2 separate regions of the Homo sapiens genome follow, and region 1 is linked to region 2. Evidence: fine-mapped expression QTL. A gene starts in region 2. The other region holds a variant in brackets. All regions are shown on one strand. Distances are between the middles of the regions.

Region 1 (9,147 bases), 64 kb before region 2:
ATATTCTTCAAAATGTCACTATCAAGAAAGATAAGTCTGAGGAAACTCTTCCATATTAAAGGAGACTAAAAAGACATGATCACTAATGCAGTAAGTGACCCTGGATCCAATCCAGGTTATAAAGGTTATAAAGTAAGGTTATAAGAAGGTTATAAAAGGTTAAAAAGTAAGGTTATTAAAAAAAGGTTATGGCTGGGCGCGGTGGCTCACGTCTGTAATCCCAGCACTTTGGGAGGTGGAGGCAGGCAGATCACCTGAGGTCGGGAGTTCAAGACCACCCTGGCCAATGTGTTGAAACCCCATCTCTACTAAAAATGCAAAAATTAGCTGGGCGTGGTGGCAGATGCCTGTAATCTCAGCTACTGGGGAGGCTGAGGCAGGAGAATCAATTGAACCCGGGAGGCGGAGGTTGTGGTGAGCCGAGATTCTGCCACTGCACTCTAGCCTGGGCAACAGAGCGAGACTCCATCTCAAAAAAAAAAAAAAAAAGAAAAGAAAAAGAAGGCCGGGTGCAGTGGCTCACACCTGTAATCCCAGCACTCTCGGAGGCCGAGGCAGGTGGATCACGAGGTCAGCAGTTCAAGACCAGCCTGGCCAACACAGTGAAACCTCATCTCTACTAAAAATACAAAAATTAGCCATGCATGGTGGCAGGCACCTGTAATCCCAGCTGCTTGGGAGGCTGAGGGAGGAGAATCACTTGATCCCGGGAGGCAGAGGTTGTAGTGAGCTGACACCATGCCGTTGCACTGCAGCCTGGGCGACAGAGTGAGACTCTGTCTCAAAAAAAAAAGAAAGGGTTATAAAGTACATTGATGGATTGATGGGACAAAGGAATTTGTTTTTTTTTTTTTTGTTTTTTTGAGACGGAGTCTCACTCTTATTGCCCAGGCTGGAGTGCAGTGGCACGATCTTGGCTCACCGCAACCTCTGCTCCTGGGTTGAAGCAATTCTCCTGCCTCAGCCTCTCCAGTGGCTGGGATTACAGGCACACACCACCACGCCTGTTAATTTTGTATTTTTAGTAGAGACTGGGGTTTCTCCATGTTGGTCAGGCTGGTCTCGAAATCCCGACCTCAGGTGATCTGCCCACCTCAGCCTCCCAAAGTGGTGGGATTACAGGCGTGAGACACCGCGCCTGGCCCGGGACAAAGGAAATTAATGTTCAGCCTAGTAAACTAAATTTCCTGAATTTGCTACATCCTCGTTCTTATGACACACTAAAATAGGAAGTGTGTGTGTGTGTGTGTGTGTGTGTGTGTATGAAAATAAAGTGTTAATGTACATGTAGCAAAATGTTAACAATTGTTGAATCTAGGTGAAGGGAGGTCAATGCAGTATTCTTACAAGTTACTATATCTCAAATTTCTTCAAGATAAAAAGCTAATAAAAATGGTGGGTAACCATAGCACAGTAAAAAGAAAAAAGTGGGTGTACCATTTGACCTCTTATTCTACTATTAGGAGTCAGTCTATCCTAAAGATAAAGGAATTTTCAAAAGTTTTTGCCTTTGGGATTTTGGGGAAAAAAACGGGCTTGAGGTAAATCCAAATAAAAACAAATGAGCCTGGGGGGATTTCTGTCCTAATATTCCTCTAAATGGGACCTGGGAAGGCTTTTGAAAAATATATAGGCTATCTCAGAAAAGTTCCAAATAAATTATGTAGCTGCTCCACCCTAATAAGGAAGTTGAGCATAGCTTCCCACTCCCTAGGTGTGGGCTTTGTATAGTGGCTTCCTTCCTAAGACTACAGTATGGAAAGGGGGTTAAAAAAGGTAACTTCAGAGTGGAGAAACCTACAAACCCTACACTTTATTCAGGTAATCAAGGTTGACATGAATAGTCAGAAATCATGTATCCCCCTTTTTTTTTTCTTTTGGTAGAGACGGGGTTCCTCTATGTTGTCCAGCCTGGTCTCGAACTTGAGGTCAAGCGATACACCCGCCTTGGTCTCCCAAAGTCTCCGGATTGCAGGCGTGAGCCACCACGCCCGGCCAACAATCATGTACCCCTAAGCCCATAACCCTGTGTAATTATGCGAAAAATTCCAATAAAGGCACATTCTCCAATATACCTAACCAGTACTCCTCAAAACAGCCCGACTAATTTCAGATAGAGGAACTCCTTATCTTTTCTTCCTCCTACCCAAGATCCCAGTTTAGGAAAAAAATACCGGTCAGGTCACGAGTCAGCGACGTAGAAGGACCCGAGGACGCGCCCACAGGCCGGGACAGGGCGGGACTTCCTGGGCGTCGCTCTCTTCCCATTGGCTGAGAAGGGTCATGAGGATGAACTGTGCAGTCACCTGGCAGGAACCGGAACCCGCGGTTATAAAGTAAAGGAACCCGAGATCTGCGCAGGGGTTCCCTTTGCCGATTTCTCTCACCTCACCTTTCAAACCTAAACTCGAGCCTACTGTTCACCGGCCTAGCATTGCTCTCGCCATGGCTCTCAGCGATGCTGACGTGCAAAAGCAGGTGAGGGGCTTGGTTGGGTCTTACGAAGCCGCGGCGGCAGTCCCGGGGAGTGGGCTGGAGCCCGCCTAGGGAAGGCCGCGGGCCTTGAGCCGCCCAGATGCCGCAGGAAGGTCCCTTGCTCCAAGTCACCAGATCCAAGAGGTCGGCCTGAGGACGGAGATTTGCCCCGCAGCTCATGTGACTTTTGCTCGGGTCTTGGGCACTGCCCGCTTGCCTGCGCGCTGCCTTCTTGAACGCCCTGGCTCTTTGCCTCCCACCTCAGCATTCCCTGTTTTCCAAGGGTATTCACTGTGCCTAGTCGGACAGAGATCTGTGCAAGGATTGAAAACAGCCTTGTGGCCAGGGGCAGTGGCTCACGCCTGTAATCCCAGTATTTTGGGAGGCCGAGGCGGCCGGATCACCTGAGGTCAGGAGTCCGAGACTAGCCTGGCCAAAATGGTGAAACCCCGGTCTCTACTAAAAATAGAAAATTAGCCGGACGTGGTGGCGCGCGCCTGTAATCCCAGCTACTCGGGAAGCTGAACCCGGAGGCGGAGGTTGCAGTTAGCCGAGATCGCGCCTTTGCACTCCAGCATGGGCGACAGGGCGAGACTCCCTCTGGAAAAAGAAAAAAAAAAAACAAACCAGCCTTGTCACTTTTTTTTTTTTTAACCCTGAGGGAAATGCTTAAGGCTATATGATAGGAAACAGTGCGGAGGGAAGAGACCTGCTTCCAACCAGTGTTTTGACAAGGTCGTTCACTTTATGAACTGTGTTTTTTTCTTTTTTTCTTTTTTTTTTTTTTGAGACGGAGTCTCACTCTGTCGCCCAGGCTGGAGTGCAAGGGCGCGATCTCGGCTCACTGCAACCTCCGCCCCGGGTTCAAGTGATTCTCCTGCCTCAGCCTCCCTAGAAGCTGGGATTACAGACTCGCGCCCCAAGCCCGGCTAATTTTTGTATTTTTTTTAGTAGAGGCAGGGTCTCACCATATTGGCCTGGCTGGTCTTGAACTCCTGACCTCAGGTGATCTTCCCACCTGGGCCTCCCAAAGTGCTGGGATTACAGGCATGAGCCAACGCGCCAGGCCTGTATGTACTGTTAATCTTCATTTTGGGGAAGTCCCCTCTATCATAATGGATTGTAATGATTGGTCTCCCACTAATGTGTGTGTTAACATTTGTGAGATACAGGCTGGGGCCGGGCATGGTGGCTCACGTCTGTAATACCAGCACTTTGGGAGGCTGAGGAGGGCGGATCACCTGAGGTCAGGAGTTCGAGACGAGCCTGGCCAGCATGGTGAAACCCCATCTCTATTAAAAATACAAAAAATTAGCCGGGCATGGTGGCGGGCGCCTGTAGTCCCAGCTACTCGGGAGGCTGAGGCAGGAGAATGGCGTGAACCCGGGAGGCCGAGCGACCCTGGGCGGCAGAGCGAGACTCCCTCTCAAAAAAATAAAAAAAAAAAGATTGTCTGGGCCTAGTGGGGTGCGCCTGTAGTCCCAGCTACTCAGGAGGCAGAGGCAGGAGAATCGCTTGAACCCGGCAGGCGGAGGTTGCAGTGAGCCAAGATTGTGCCACTGCACTCCAGCCTGGGTGACAGAGTGAGACTCCATCTCAAAAAATTTTAATATTAATAAACACAAATACACGCCAGGTGTGGTGGCTCACACCTGTAGCCCCCAGCACTTTGGGAGGCTGAGGTGGGAGGATCGCTTGATCCCAGGAGTTCAAGACCAGCCTGGGCAACATAGACCTTATCTCTAAAAAATTTTTTCTTAAAAAATAAGCCAGGCTGTCTGGGCATGGTTGCTCATGCCTGTAATCCCAGCACTTTGGAAGGCCGAGGTGGGCATATCACCTGCGGTCAGGAGTTCCAGACCAGCCTGGCCAACGTGGCAAAACCCTGTCTCTACTAAAAATACAAAATTAGTGGGGCGTGCTGGCATATGCCTGTAATCCCAACTACTAGGAGGCTGAGGCAGGAGAATTTCTTGAACCCGGGAGGTGGAGGTTATGGTGAGGCGAGATCACACCATTGCTGCCTGGGCAACAGAGCGAGACTGTCTCAAAAAAAAAAAAAAATTGCCAGGTGTGGTGGGGCACACATGTGCTCCTAGCTACTTAGGGAGGCTGATGTGGGAGAATCATTTGAGCCCAAGGGGTCGAGGCTGCAGTGAGCTATGATCATGCCACTGTGCTCCATCCTGGGTGAGAGAGCAAAAGACCCTGTCTCTAAAAATATTAAATAAATAAACAAAATTGTGTCAAATGGAAGACCGCTTTTTCTTTTCTTTCTTTTTTTTTTTTTTTTTTTTTGAGACGAAGTCTCGCTCTGTTGCCCAGGCTGGAGTGCAGTGGCATGGTCTCCGCTCACTGCAAGCTCCACCTCCTGGGTTC[A/G]TGCCATTCTCCTGCCCCAGCCTCCCGAGAAGCTGGGACTTACAGGCGCCCGCCACCACGCCTGGCTAATTTTTTCTATTTTTTATTAGAGATGGGGTTTCACTGTATTAGCCAGGATGGTCTTGATCTCCTGACCTCGTAATCTGCCCACCTCGGCCTCCCAAAGTGCTGGGATTACAGGCATGAGCTACCGCGCCTGGCCAGGACCCCTTTTGCTTACATTTAGGAGCCTCAATGCCTAACGGTGTTTGGCACCAAGTAGATGTATCAGAGTTTATGGGAAAAAATTGTTGTGGAAGTCGTGAACCCACATCAGTTTTCAAAGTGTAATCAGTCCTGGGAAACTTTTTTTTTTTTTTTAAGTGCCATACCTTCAAGTCTGTAGGTATTAAGAATTTTGTCATGCAAAAGACTCTCAGGGGAATATAGTAGCAGTTTATAAGCCTATAACTAACAAATCAGAATCCTTGCATTTAGTAATCATATTGCCGATAGATTTTTCAGAGAAGGAAGTTTAAGGCTGCAGTTTTAATTTGCACATAGTTTAGAGAACTAAGTCCTTTTTTTTCTGAAGTACTGTGCTAGGAAAATTCTCTTACTAAAGCACACTCACTGTCTTATGAATCTTCTGAGATGAGCAATAAAATTTTTTCCTGGCCGGCTCACGCCTGTAATCCCAGCACTTTGGGAGGCCGAGGCGGGCAGATCACCTGAGGTTGGGAGTTTGAGATCACCTGAGGTTGGGAGTTTGAGACCAGCCTGACCAACATGGAGAAACCCTGTCTCTACTAAAATTCAAAATTAGCCGGGCGAGGTGGTGCATGCCTGTAATCTCAGCAACTTGGGAGCCTGAGACAGGAGAATCGCTTGAACCCAGAGGTTGCAGCAAGCCGAGATCATGCCATTGTACTCCAGCCTGGGCAACAAGAGTGAAACTCGGTCTCAAAAAAAAAAGTTTTTCGTTGGATGTTTCCATTTCCTTGAAAGTGTCTTTTCATTTTATTCTTAACCTAATATGCACTAAGACGAGTGGGTATTTCTTCTTCATTTTGTGGTTCTGCTAATGCCAAAGGGTAAATAGAGATGACAAAATTAGTATCTATGGAGAAGTTTAAGAAATCATACAATATTCTTACAGAACCAAAGGGTTTTTTTAAACCTTTTTCACTGCTTCTTCTGTTCACTGCTTCTTCTGCTTCTTTCAATATAGGAAAAGCTTGATGCAGTGGAAAAGTAAAATGCCCTCCATATACTCTTAGTGGCCACAGTGCTAATTCTCTCCCTCTTGTTCCCTTTCTTCCCTCCTTGTCATAATATATTGAAGACTAAGGCTTCCATAGGAAAAGCTAGTATAAAGATAAAGCTATAGTTCCTTGGAATCTAGATCAAAATGATTTTTTTTTTTTGAGATGGAGTCTTGCTTTGTCGCCTAGGCTGGAGTGCAGTGGCGCGATCTCAGCTTGCTGCAACCTCTGCCTCCTGGGTTCAAGCGATTCTCCTGTCTCAGCCTCTCCAGTAGCTGGGACTACAGGCGTATGTCACCACACCCGGATAATTTTTTTGTATTTTTAGTACACATGGGAATTCGCCACGTTGGCCAGGCTGGTCTTGAACCTCCGAAGTGGTGGGATTATAGGCGTGAGCCACTGCGCATGAGTTATTTTTTCTTTTTTTTGAGACAGTCTCGCTCTCTTGCCCAGGCTGGAGTGCCATGGCGTGATCTCAGCTCACTGCAGCCTCTGCCTCCCGGGTTCAAGCGATCCTCCTGCATCAGCCTCCTGAGTACCTGGGATTACTGGTGCCCGCCACCACACCCAGCTAATTTTTGTATTTTTAGTAGAGATGGGGTTTCACCATGTTGGCCAGGCTGGTCTCGAACTCCTGACCTCGTGATCTGCCCGCCTCAGCCTCCCAAAGTATTGGGATTACAGGTGTCAGCCACTGCACCCGGCCTATTTTTTATTTATGTAAAATTGAAAGAAGGAATCTTGTCTATTTCCTATAATCCTTCATGCTACATGAAAGCTCGATGAGGACAGTGTGTGTTGTTTACTGTATTCTCATAAGTAAATAGATGAAGCACCAAGCCCATAGTAGATGCTTAATAAATCCTGAATTTTCTGACTTCTCCATTGCATGAAAATATTTGTGTATATTTGCTTTTTTCCTGGGGAGTATGGTAATTTATTTCATCAAATTTACAAAGAAACCTGACTCTAAAAACCTTAATTACTGAGCAGGAAGAAGAAACTGTTTTTTTAAAGGTCAAATTTTCTGCCTTAGGGGTGGAGTTAAATGTCCTTAAAGGGTTGACTATATCTCTTCTTGGAACTCTTAAAAGAATATGATCATGTTAACTGTAAATAGGCTTCTGACCTGGGTTAGAATTAGCGCAGTTTGCTCTAGGCTGTGCTGGTCTGGTCAAATCTGGTAGCCAAGGGTGCAGCAGAGTGCTAAAGGCAGATAATCCAGGTCCGAATCAGGGTTCACCTTTAGAGGCCAAACTTGTAGCATTTATAAACACCGGTTTTGATTACTGTATTTAGTTAAATGACTTTTTTTTTTTTTTTGAGACAGAGTCTTGCTCTGTCACCCAGGCGTGATCTTGGCTTGCTGCAACCTCCACCTCCCAGGTTCAAGTGATTCTCCTCCATCAGCCTCCTGAGTAGCTAGGATTGCAGGCACCCGCCACCACGCCTGGCTAATTTTTGTATTTTTAGTAGAGACCAGGTTTCACCATGTTGGTCAGGCTGGTCTTGAACTCCTGACCTCGTGATCCACCCGGATTGGCCTCCCAAAGTGCTGGGATTACAGGCGTGAGCCCGGCTAGTTAAATGACTTAAAATTCCAGATAGAATAAGTTCAGTGAGACTTCAAACTAAACTTGTAGACACCATTACCATGACCCCTCTCCATACTCCCAAATTTGTGGAGCTGATCTTTTAAGCAAGGTCAGTGATTTCCCACACATCTAGGTCTGGATTAGGTACCCCAAGTATTTCAAGGCTCAAGATATTGTAAGTACCATGTTATCTATAACATAGGTTTGATCATCATAACTTTTTGTCTCCTTAAAAGTAGGATTGGAAACACGATGGTGGCCACAGAAGTTGGAATCCACTGAGTGTGTAACAACTCACCTGCCAAAATAAGAAAAAAAAGAAAAGTAGGGTGGCTCCAAGATTTTTGATAAAACAAAAAAACTGTCCCTTCTAAAATCCTCCTATATGTTTTTTGTTTCATTTTGTTTTGTTTTTTTTGAGACGGAGTTTCGCTCTTCTTGCCCAGGCTGGAGTGCAGTGGCACAATCTATGCCTACCACAACCTCCGCCTCCAGGTTCAAGTGATTCTCCTGCCTCAGCCTCCTGAGTAACTGGGATTACAGGCATGCACCACCACGCCTGGCTAATTTTTTGTATTTTTAGTAGAGATGGGGTTTCTCCATCTTGGCCAGGCTGGTCTCAAACTCCCAACCTCAGGAGATCTACCCACCTTGGCCTCCCAGGGTCTTGGGATTACAGGCATGAGCCACCATACCCAGGCAGTAGTGTTTTCTTTTCTTTCTTTTTTTTGTTTCATTATACTTTAAGTTCTGAGATACATGTGCAGAATGTGCACAGGTTTGTTACATAGTGATACGCGTGCCATGGTGGTTTGCTGCACCCATCAACCCATCATCTACATTAGGTATTTCTCCTAATGCTATCCCTCCCCTAGCTCCCCACCCAGTAGTGCTTTCTTAATTCGTTTTGGTACACCTATGTATACTTAAGATTTATGATATCTTGTGTTATATGGAGAAGCTGCTATGGGGATTGTTTACAGATTGTTAAACCCTAAAAAGTACCTGGGATACCTTGTATTCCTTAGAAGTCTTGAAACTCCCAACAGATTTGCATTCATTCACAAATTTTTTTGAGCATCTCCTATGGTGGTGGTTGTTCCATGTTCTGGGTTCACACTGGCATAAAAGACAAGATCCCTGTACTCAGTGGTGCTTACCTTTTAGTGGGATAATTAATAAACAAAATGAATTAATGACCTAAAGATCCTACGTCAATTTTTAGCTTTTTTTTCCTTTTTGGATTTCATCACTCCCTTAGGAAATGAAGCTACCATTGCATCCCACAACCAGTGAGTTTGATGAGCTGTGTCGGTTGGATTTTTACTTGGGTATATTTTATATCTGCCACAAGAGATGATACTTCATTTATGAGTCTAAGTTGGATTATTCCCCAAGCCCCATTCGGAAGCCTTCATTGGACTTTATTCTCCAATTGTAGCCGGTGATCT
Region 2 (9,178 bases):
ATTTTTGTTATTTCTTTGTAGAGACGCGGTTTTGCCATGTTGCCCTAGGCAGGTGTACAACTCCTGACCTCAAGCCATCTGCCTGCCTCAGCCTATCAAAGTGCTGAGATTACAGGTGTGAGCCATCACGGCCGGCCCATGCTAATTTTCTTCCCACCTTTTCTGGTGGGCAATGGAAAGCTGATAGAGGATGCTATGGAGTAGGGACCCGACGGGACAGTTCAGGTCTCTGGCAGTGCCAAGTGGTTTGGACAAGTCAGGGAGATTACACAGTAAGCTAGGCAAAAGAGAAAATGACAGGCTGGGCCAGGCACGGTGGCTCGGGCCTGTAATCCCAGCACTTTGGGAGGCTGAGGTGGGCGGATCACCTGAGGTTGGGAGTTCGAGACCAGCCTGACCAACGTGGAGAAACCCCGTCTCTACTAAAAATACAAAATTAACTGGGCATGGTGGCACATGCCTGTAATCCCAGCTATTTGGAAGGCTTAAGCGGGAGAACCGCTTGAACCCGTGAGGCGGAGGTTGTAGTGAGCCGAGATTGCGCCATTGCACTCCAGCTTGGGCAACAAGAGCGAGGCTCCAGTTGGAAAAAAAAAAAAGAAAATGACAGCCTGCTCACAGGAGGGAAGAGATGTGAATGGTTTCTGTGAAGATTATACAGGGCTTGGTGGGTGATTAAACACGCCAGAGGCAGGTATCAGATTTGAAACACGCATCAGCAGGAGGAAGATACATTATCCCCCCACTGAGAGTGTTAGAAGCAGGGGGTAGGTAAGGAGACGGGGAGGGAAGAGAAGTTTGGCAGCTGACATGAGCTTAAAGTAGCAGTTGCAGATGAGGGGGTGACAGCAGGCACCAGAAACAGCGGTGCAGTGCCGTGTCACACCCACAAGCATGGTTCAAAAAAATAGAGATCGGCATTGGTGCGGATGTAGAGAATTGGAACCCTTGCTGGTGAGAATGTAAAACACGGCAGCCATGGTGGAAGACAGTATGGCAGGTCCTCAAAAAAGTAAACACAGAGGCCAGGTGCGGTGGCTCACGCCTGTAATCCTTGTGCTTTGGGAGGCTGAGGTGGGAGGATCACTAGAGCCTGGGAGTTTGAGACCAGCCTGGGAAACATCCAAGACCCCATCTCTTTATTTTTTGAGACGGAGCTTCACTCTTGTTGCCCAGGCTGGAGTGCAATGGCACGATCTCGGCTCACTGAAACCTCTACCTCCTGGGTTCAAGTGATTCTCCTGCCTCAGCCTCCGGAGAAGCTGGGATTACAGGCATGCCCCATCATGCCCGGCTAATTTTGTGTTTTTAGTAGAGACGGGGTTTCTCCATGTTTGTCAGGCTGGTCTTGAACTCCCCACCTCAGGTGATCTGCCTGCCTCGGCCTCCCAAAGTGCTGGTATTACAGGCGTGAGCCAACACACCTGTCCAAAAATTTTTTTAAAAAATTACTCAAAAAAACCCCAAACAAAAAATTAGCCAGGCGCTGCGGTGTGTGTCTGTAGTTCTAGCTACTTGGGAGGTCGAGGAAGGAGGATCATTTGAGCCCTGGGGTTGGAGGCTGCAGTGAGCTATGATCATACCACTGCACTTCAACTTGGCAAGACCCTATCTCTATTAAAAAATAGAAAATTTGGCAGGGCGTGGTGGCTCACGCCTGTAATCCCAGCACTTTGGGAGCCCGAGGTGGGTGGATCACGAGGTCAGGAGATCGAGACCATCCTGGCCAACATGGCAAAACCCCGTCTCTACTAAAAAATACAAAAAATTAGCTGGGTATAGTGGCAGGCACCTGTAGTCCCAGCTACTCGGGAGGCTGAGGCAGGAGAATGGCGTGAACCCGGGGGGGCGGAGTTTACAGTGAACCGAGATTGTGCCACTGTACTCCAGCCTGGGTGACAGAGCAAGACTGTCTCAAAAACAAAACAAAACAAAACAAAACAAAAACAGAATGAGTCTGCACAGAGTGACAAATGAGGCTGCAGGCAGAAATAAGAGCATCCCGAGGGAGGGCTCCTGGGCTCAAGCGATCCACCCACCTCACCCTCCTGAGTAGCTGGGATCACAGGTGCACACCATCAACCTGGCTAATTAAAACAATTATTTTTTTGTAGAGGTGGGGCCTCATTATGTTGCCTGGGCCTGATTTTTTTTTTTTGGAGACAGAGTCTTGCTCTGTCCCCCAGGCTGGAGTGCACTGGCTCAATCTTGGCTCACTACAACGTCCATCTCCCAGGTTCAAGTGAGTTTCCTGCCTCAGCCTCCCGAGTAGCTGGGACTACCACACCTGCTACCACGCCTGGCTAATTTTTTGTATTTTTAGTATAGATGGGGTTTCACGTTAGCCAGGATGGTCTCCATCTCTTGACCTCGTGATCCGCCCGCCTTGGCCTCCCAAAGTGCTGGGATTACAGGTGTGAGCCACCGCGCCCCAGCCAACTTAAGTCCTTTCTAAAAATTTTTTTTACTTTATATAAACTGTTTGTATTCTTTTTTCTATGCTATGCCTCAGGTTTGAAGATGTTCAGCTCAGATTACCTGCATCTAAGGACCAAAATGTAAATGCCAGGGCCATTCTTCCAGGTCAGTTTGCATCAGAACCATGCAGGTTGCATCTGTTGCTAGTTACAAGAGAGAGCTAGGCCCTTCTTCAGTTTAAGGTCTTAGGCGGGATGCCAAAATCTGCATTTCCAGCAAGTTCCCAGATGATGGCCAGGCTACATTGTGAGAACATCACAATAGATCATGTGAGTGAGAATGATCAGGGCAGGCTGAGGTGGTGGGGAGAGGAACACCATCACTTCTCCCAAGCTGCAGTTTCTGCAGATCTACGCTGCCTTTGGGAAATGTTTAGCATCACACTGGACATAATTACTTGCGCTGCATTTTCTGAATTACACAGTCTTCGTCTTAGAGTGGAGCCAGGGCAAAAGAGGAATTCAAGCTGGAACAAGGAGTCCGAGAAGACGCGACTGCTGGACAGAACAAGCGATGAAGCCAGTCCCCAAACTGATGAGCCCGCAGCTCCATCCAAATTAAATGGGCTGAGAACACCAACACTCCACCCTCCCGGTACGATTGCATGGCAGGGAGGAACCAAAAATATTTTTCCTTCATCTGCTATCTCAGCTAAGCAGTACACTCTTTCTAGCACCTCACTAGAGTCCAGTTTTTCTGTATTCTGTATTCACAATACAGGTTTATTATGAACTCTGAGCAGATGAGGCTATTTTTCCCCCTTTTGGTTTCTTAGTAACTAGGCAAAGTACAAGGCTCACGGTGGGTATTTAATAAATACTTACTGACAACTTGCCTGCAAGCGAGTCGACGTTCATCTCAGTTGTTGAGGCACTCACGGGCCAGGCTTCACTCGACTCTTCTCACTGCCTACTCAGTTCCTTCTCAAAGCAAAGCCCGTGGATATATCCAAGGAACTGGCTTCATTGCTTTTAAAAATTCTGTCCAGCTTTAACTGGCTAGAATAGGGGTCCTCGTCCTTGTCATATGCTGTCCAGAATGAAGTCCAAATCCAGGATTCTGGGAGCATGTCATGCTTTCTCGAACCTGCAGGAGTCTCAAGGGCACCTGCATTGATATGCATGTCATGGCTGTAGAAGGGGGCTGGCATTGCAGCACACAATAGCCAAATCTGGGGATTTTCCAGATGCCTTCGCCTTCTTGGCTAGTATTTTTCACTGAAGGTTTTTTATAAAACTGCTTAAGGAAACTAGGGGAGTGAGCATTGCTAGCAGAAAGGGGACTAAAATAGATGCACAGAGGTCCCTTAAAAGTCCAAAGGAACACCACGAGGCCAGGGAAACATCTGCAGGGTCAATGCAGAGAAATCAACAGCAGTTGTGGGGGAGGACAGTGAAGGCAGCCACACAGCAGGCAGCTGCTGCTGGGTCACCCAGGGCTCTGCCGCGGCTCCATGAGCGCCCAGAAGGAAAGGTCCCATGATACCTCTTGCATAACAACTGCATGACATAGGCCGTTCACCTTCCAGGAAGATTCCAGGGTAAAGATCAGCCCCCAAATAGCCCGTCTGGATGGTTATTTTCTCAATTCCGTTGGTAGCACTCTCAGAGAACATAGAGTATAGCAAAATGGAGCCCACAAAGGGGCTGATTTATAAAACTTGCGTTGCCTTTCCTTCCAGTAACACGAATTGGTTTAGAGACAAGAGACATTAATCTTTAACAAGAGAAGCACCTATGGATGTCTCCAAATGTCAAAATAGAAAGTTGATCAGAACTTTTGAGACTAATCTACAGTAACAATGTATAGCTTCCTGTCTCCCTAAATCTTGCCCGAGTAGCTTTTATGCTCTTATTTTAAGAAGCTCACTGTGTAGGATTATCTGTGTAAGATATATTTACCCAGGATGCTTAACAAGCGTTAAACAGTAACAGTTCCAAAAATAGAGCCACATTTACACTGCCTACTGCACTGTTTTGAAACAGTTAACCAGTGGAAGATGCTAACTTTTGGTACATATATTTGTTGCTGGTTTTGGCCCGAAGAAGATAAATCTGGAAGCACTCTAAATGGCTAAGTTCCTTATAAAAAATAAAGGCCGGGCACAGTGGCTCACGCCTGTAATTCCTAGCACTTCGGGAGGCTGAGGCAGACAGATCACTTGAGCTCAGTTCTAGACCAGCCTGGGCAACATCGTGAGACAAAAAATTAGCTGGGTGTGGTGGGGTGCCCCTGTAGTCCCAGCTGCTTGGGAGGCTGTGGTGAGAGGACTGCTTGAGCCCGGGAGATTGAGGCTGCAGTGAGCTGAGACCATGCCACTGTACCTAGCCTGGGCAACAGAGTGAAACCCTGTCTCAAGAAAAATTAAAGCCTATCTTTTTTTTTTTTTTTCATGTTGTGAGAATTTAATAAGTCAATGAACATAAGGTGCTTAGAACCAAGCTTAGGGTATGGAAAACAGAGAATAGATGTTTCTTGTTATTCTTTTTTTTTTTTTAATTTATTTTTTTATTGATAATTCTTGGGTGTTTCTCACAGAGGGGGATTTGGCAGGGTCATGGGACAATAGTGGAGGGAAGGTCAGCAGATAAACAAGTGAACAAAGGTCTCTGGTTTTCCTAGGCAGAGGACCCTGCGGCCTTCCGCAGTGTTTGTGTCCCTGGGTACTTGAGATTAGGGAGTGGTGATGACACTTAACGAGCATGCTGCCTTCAAGCGTCTGTTTAACAAAGCACATCTTGCACCGCCCTTAATCCATTTAACCCTGAGTGGACACAGCACATGTTTCAGAGAGCACAGGGTTGGGGGTAAGGTCACCGATCAACAGGATCCCAAGGCAGAAGAATTTTTCTTAGTGCAGAACAAAATGAAAAGTCTCCCATGTCTACTTCTTTCTACACAGACACGGCAACCATCCGATTTCTCAATCTTTTCCCCACCTTTCCCGCCTTTCTATTCCACAAAACTGCCACTGTCATCATGGCCCGTTCTCAATGAGCTGTTGGGCACACCTCCCAGACGGGGTGGTGGCCGGGCAGAGGGGCTCCTCACTTCCCAGTAGGGGCGGCCGGGCAGAGGCGCCCCTCACCTCCCGGACGGGGTGGCTGGCCGGGCGGGGGGCTGACCCCCCACCTCCCTCCCGGACGGGGTGGCTGCCGGGCGGAGGGGCTCCTCACTTCTCAGACGGGGTGGTTGCCAGGCAGAGGGTCTCCTCACTTCTCAGACGGGCCGGCTGGGCAGAGACGCTCCTCACCTCCCAGACGGGGTCGCGGCCGGGCAGAGGCGCTCCTCACATCCCAGACGGGGCGGCGGGGCAGAGGCGCTCCCCACATCTCAGACGATGGGCGGCCGGGCAGAGACGCTCCTCACTTCCTAGATGGGATGGCGGCCGGGCGGAGACGCTCCTCACTTTCCAGACTGGGCAGCCAGGCAGAGGGGCTCCTCACATCCCAGACGATGGGCGGCCAGGCAGAGACGCTCCTCACTTCCCAGACGGGGTGGCAGCCGGGCAGAGGCTGCAATCTCAGCACTTTGGGAGGCCAAGGCAAGCGGCTGGGAGGTGGAGGTTGTAGCGAGCCGAGATCACGCCACTGCACTCCAGCCTGGGCACCATTGAGCACTGAGTGAACGAGACTCCGTCTGCAATCCCGGCACTTCGGGAGGCCGAGGCTGGCGGATCACTCGCGGTTAGGAGCTGGAGACCAGCCCGGCCAACACAGCGAAACCCCGTCTCCACCAAAACCAGTCAGGCGTGGCGGCGCGTGCCTGCAATCGCAGGCACTCGGCAGGCTGAGGCAGGAGAATCAGGCAGGGAGGTTGCAGTGAGCCGAGATGGCAGCAGTACAGTCCAGCTTCGGCTCCGCATGAGAGGGAGACCGTGGAAAGAGAGGGAGACCGTGAGGAGAGGGAGAGGGAGAGGGAGAGGGAGAGCTAAAGCCTATCAATAGCTAAATATGTCAAAAAACATTCTGGCCTTTGTTTGGTGAGAATTCATGTCACGGTAGGAGGAAATCTGAAAGTTAGGAATCAAAGTTTGCATGCATTTTAAGGGTGTGCTGCTGATATGCACAGGGAGTGGGTTTGCTAACGCCATCCCAGCCACTGATGCAGCTGGACTGGGCTCTAGGAAAGCTGACAGAACAGTGAAGGAAGCCAGGCCAGAGTGGTGCTCCCCCCACCCACTGGGAGAATCCATCGAGATGCACAATTTGAGTAGCATCATGTCTGATCTGGGGTTTACTAGTGATTTTTTAAGACAGGATCTCACACTCTTGCCCAGGCTGGAGTGCAGTGGTGCGATCTCTGCTCACTGCAACCTCTGCCTGCAGGGTTTAAGCAATTCTCCTGCTTCAGCTTCCTAAGTAGCTGAGATCACAAGCGTGTGCCACCATGCCCGGCTAATTTTTGTATTTTTGGTAGAGACGGTTTCACCATGCTGGCCAGGCTGATCTCAAACTCCTGACATCAAGTGAGCCACCGTGCCCAGCCTGATTTTTCACTTTAAAGTTGATTTTTGTTTTGTTTCAGAAATTACACTGAAATGCAACTACTAAACAAGAAAGTACGGTTGGCATAAAATGTTTTATCATAGAAACACTTTTCATGGGAGAATAACTGAACAGTTTTAAAATAATACCAGGATAAAAGGCTCAAAAATTTGTTAGCCAGTAACAACAGAGTATCAGTGGGGACAATCAGACACCAAACAACTGGAGGTTAAAAGGAGAGTGAACAGATCACTGCCTAGAAAGGGACAGCCCCAAGCATGGGTTTGGAAACGGGTACTAATTGTGGTGAAATTTTTATGGAATGAGGATTACTTCCACAGCCAATTACAGATGCTCCTCAGCTTCCAGTGGGGTCACCTCCGGATAAACCCATCATGAGTTGAAAATATTGTCAGCTGGAAATGCACTGAATCCACCTAACCCACCAAATATCACAGCTTAGCCTGCCTCAAGCATGCTCAGCAAACTTATGCTAGCCCACAGTTGAGCCTCCTTTTTTATTTTTATTTTTGAGACGGAGTCTTCCTGTCGCTCAGGCTGGAATGCAGTGGCGCGATCTTGGCTCACTGCAACCTCCGCATCCCAGCTTCCAGCGATTGTCCTGCCTCAGCCTCCCAAGTAGCCAGGATTACAGGCACCCGCCACCACGCCCCGCTAATTTTTGTGTTTTTAGTAGAGGCAGGCTTTTGCCATGTTGGCCAGGCTGGTCTCGAACTCCTGAGCTCATATGATCTACTTGCCTTGGCCTCCCAGAGTGCTGGGATTACAGGTGTGAGCCAGCACACCTGGCTGAGCCTCCTTTATCACACAGTGTTGAATATGTCATGGAGTTTATTGAATACCGTACAGAAGGTGAAAGAGAATTGTTGCACGAGGACTTCAAGTACAGTTTCTGCAGAATGTGTCTCATTTTCAAAAACTCCTAAGTTGAATGATCATTAAACTGGGACAGTCTGCATTTAAGGACAAAACAGGAGTTCTGGTGTCTTAAGACTGTAGCTGATTTCTAAGAATGTAGCTACTTTCTTTTTTTGGGACACAGTCTCACTCTGTCACCCAGGCTGGAATGCAGTGGTGCGATCTCGGCTCACTGCAAGCTCCGCCTCCCGGGTTCACGCCATTCTCCCGCCTCAGCCTCCCGAGTAGCTGGGGCTACAGGTGTGTGCCGCCACGCGCGGCTAATTTTTTGTATTTTTAGTAGAGACGGGGTTTCACCGTGTTAGCCAGGATGGTCTCGATCTCCTGACCTCGTGATCCGCCCGCCTCAGCCTCCCAAAGTGCTGGGATTACAGACGTGAACCACCGCGCCTGGCTGAATGAAGCTACTTTCAAACTGTTCTCCCAGTAACTGGAAATAAAACATAAATGACCTTGGCAGGTATAAGATTGCCCGCTTGCTTAGGCTGGAGCTCCCACTTCTGGCCATGTGTGTGCACAGCGGGCTCCAGGCTGGAGCTGCCCCGCTGCCCCACTGTTATACTCCTTTCCCATCCCAGGCACCCTAAAGCCTGCAAGGAGAGAAGTCGTGCACCTCAGGTGTAGTAACCTTCTGAAGGCGGACGCCTTTACCAGTGAGATGCTGACGGCCGGGCCAGCTTCGCAAGGATCGGCTGTGAGGAGCGTTTTATCCCTGACATGGTTTAGAACTGCCAGTCAGTACATGACTGTTTTGAAGTTCTCTGGAACCATATTCCTCTGTCTCATGCACAGGACCCGTGCCCCGCCTCCGTGGATTCTGGATGCATGAGAATGGACGAGGGGTGGCATTTCAGCTGGTGGCCTTGTGGCCTAGTTCACGCCTTCGTCCTGATGGAAGTCTGGGTTTGCCCTGATATGGAAATGACACATGGACAGACACACCACACACACAGAGGAGCCTTGCTATTTTAAGCATGTACTTTATACAAAATAACCAGTTCATATGGAAATAAATCTACAGACCTCCAAGGATCAAAAAGCTTTTTAAAAAGTTCTTTTAAAAAATTATCCAACACACAATATTGAACTAACTATTGAGGTAAGTGTCGCTCTCAGTGAAACAGGGAATCAGCAGACCACGACAAAATATACACAATATAAAAATAAATAGCATTCCCCTTTCCAGTACTGGCCAGAAGGTTCACATGGTTTCTGCTTTTGCAGCAGGAGCAGAGGCTCCAGACACTGTGTGCCAAGGCTGCTGGGGACTGACC

Which allele goes with the higher level. Positions count from the first base shown, and alleles are read on the strand shown. Sizes are in standard deviations (SD) of each study's normalised expression.
With allele G in place of A in region 1, the expression in fibroblasts of the gene that starts at base 3,518 in region 2 is higher (small effect, 0.34 SD a copy in GTEx).

What was found. PIP is the estimated chance that this variant, and not a neighbour inherited with it, causes the effect.
Region 1: its variant is fine-mapped to the expression of SLC25A18 in fibroblasts (GTEx, PIP 0.92).

Annotation. Positions count from the first base shown.
Region 1 is chr22:17,621,934-17,631,080 of GRCh38, reverse strand. It overlaps ATP6V1E1 (ATPase H+ transporting V1 subunit E1), which reads left to right and starts at 2,332. Exons shown (of 9, transcript NM_001696.4): 1 at 2,332-2,478. The coding sequence starts at 2,446. It also overlaps a transcript of BCL2L13 not described here. RefSeq lists enhancers at 2,207-2,376, 2,318-2,407, 2,488-2,637. The variant A/G (reference allele first, on the strand shown) is at 4,855.
Region 2 is chr22:17,557,838-17,567,015 of GRCh38, reverse strand. SLC25A18 (solute carrier family 25 member 18) reads right to left here and starts at 3,518. Exons shown (of 11, transcript NM_031481.3): 1 at 3,303-3,518. It overlaps LOC105372850 (a long non-coding RNA gene), which reads left to right. Exons shown (of 3, transcript XR_001755420.2): 2 at 2,513-2,747; 3 at 2,903-3,319. CECR2 (CECR2 histone acetyl-lysine reader) reads right to left here. Exons shown (of 19, transcript NM_001290047.2): 19 at 8,865-9,178. RefSeq lists a silencer at 3,453-3,747.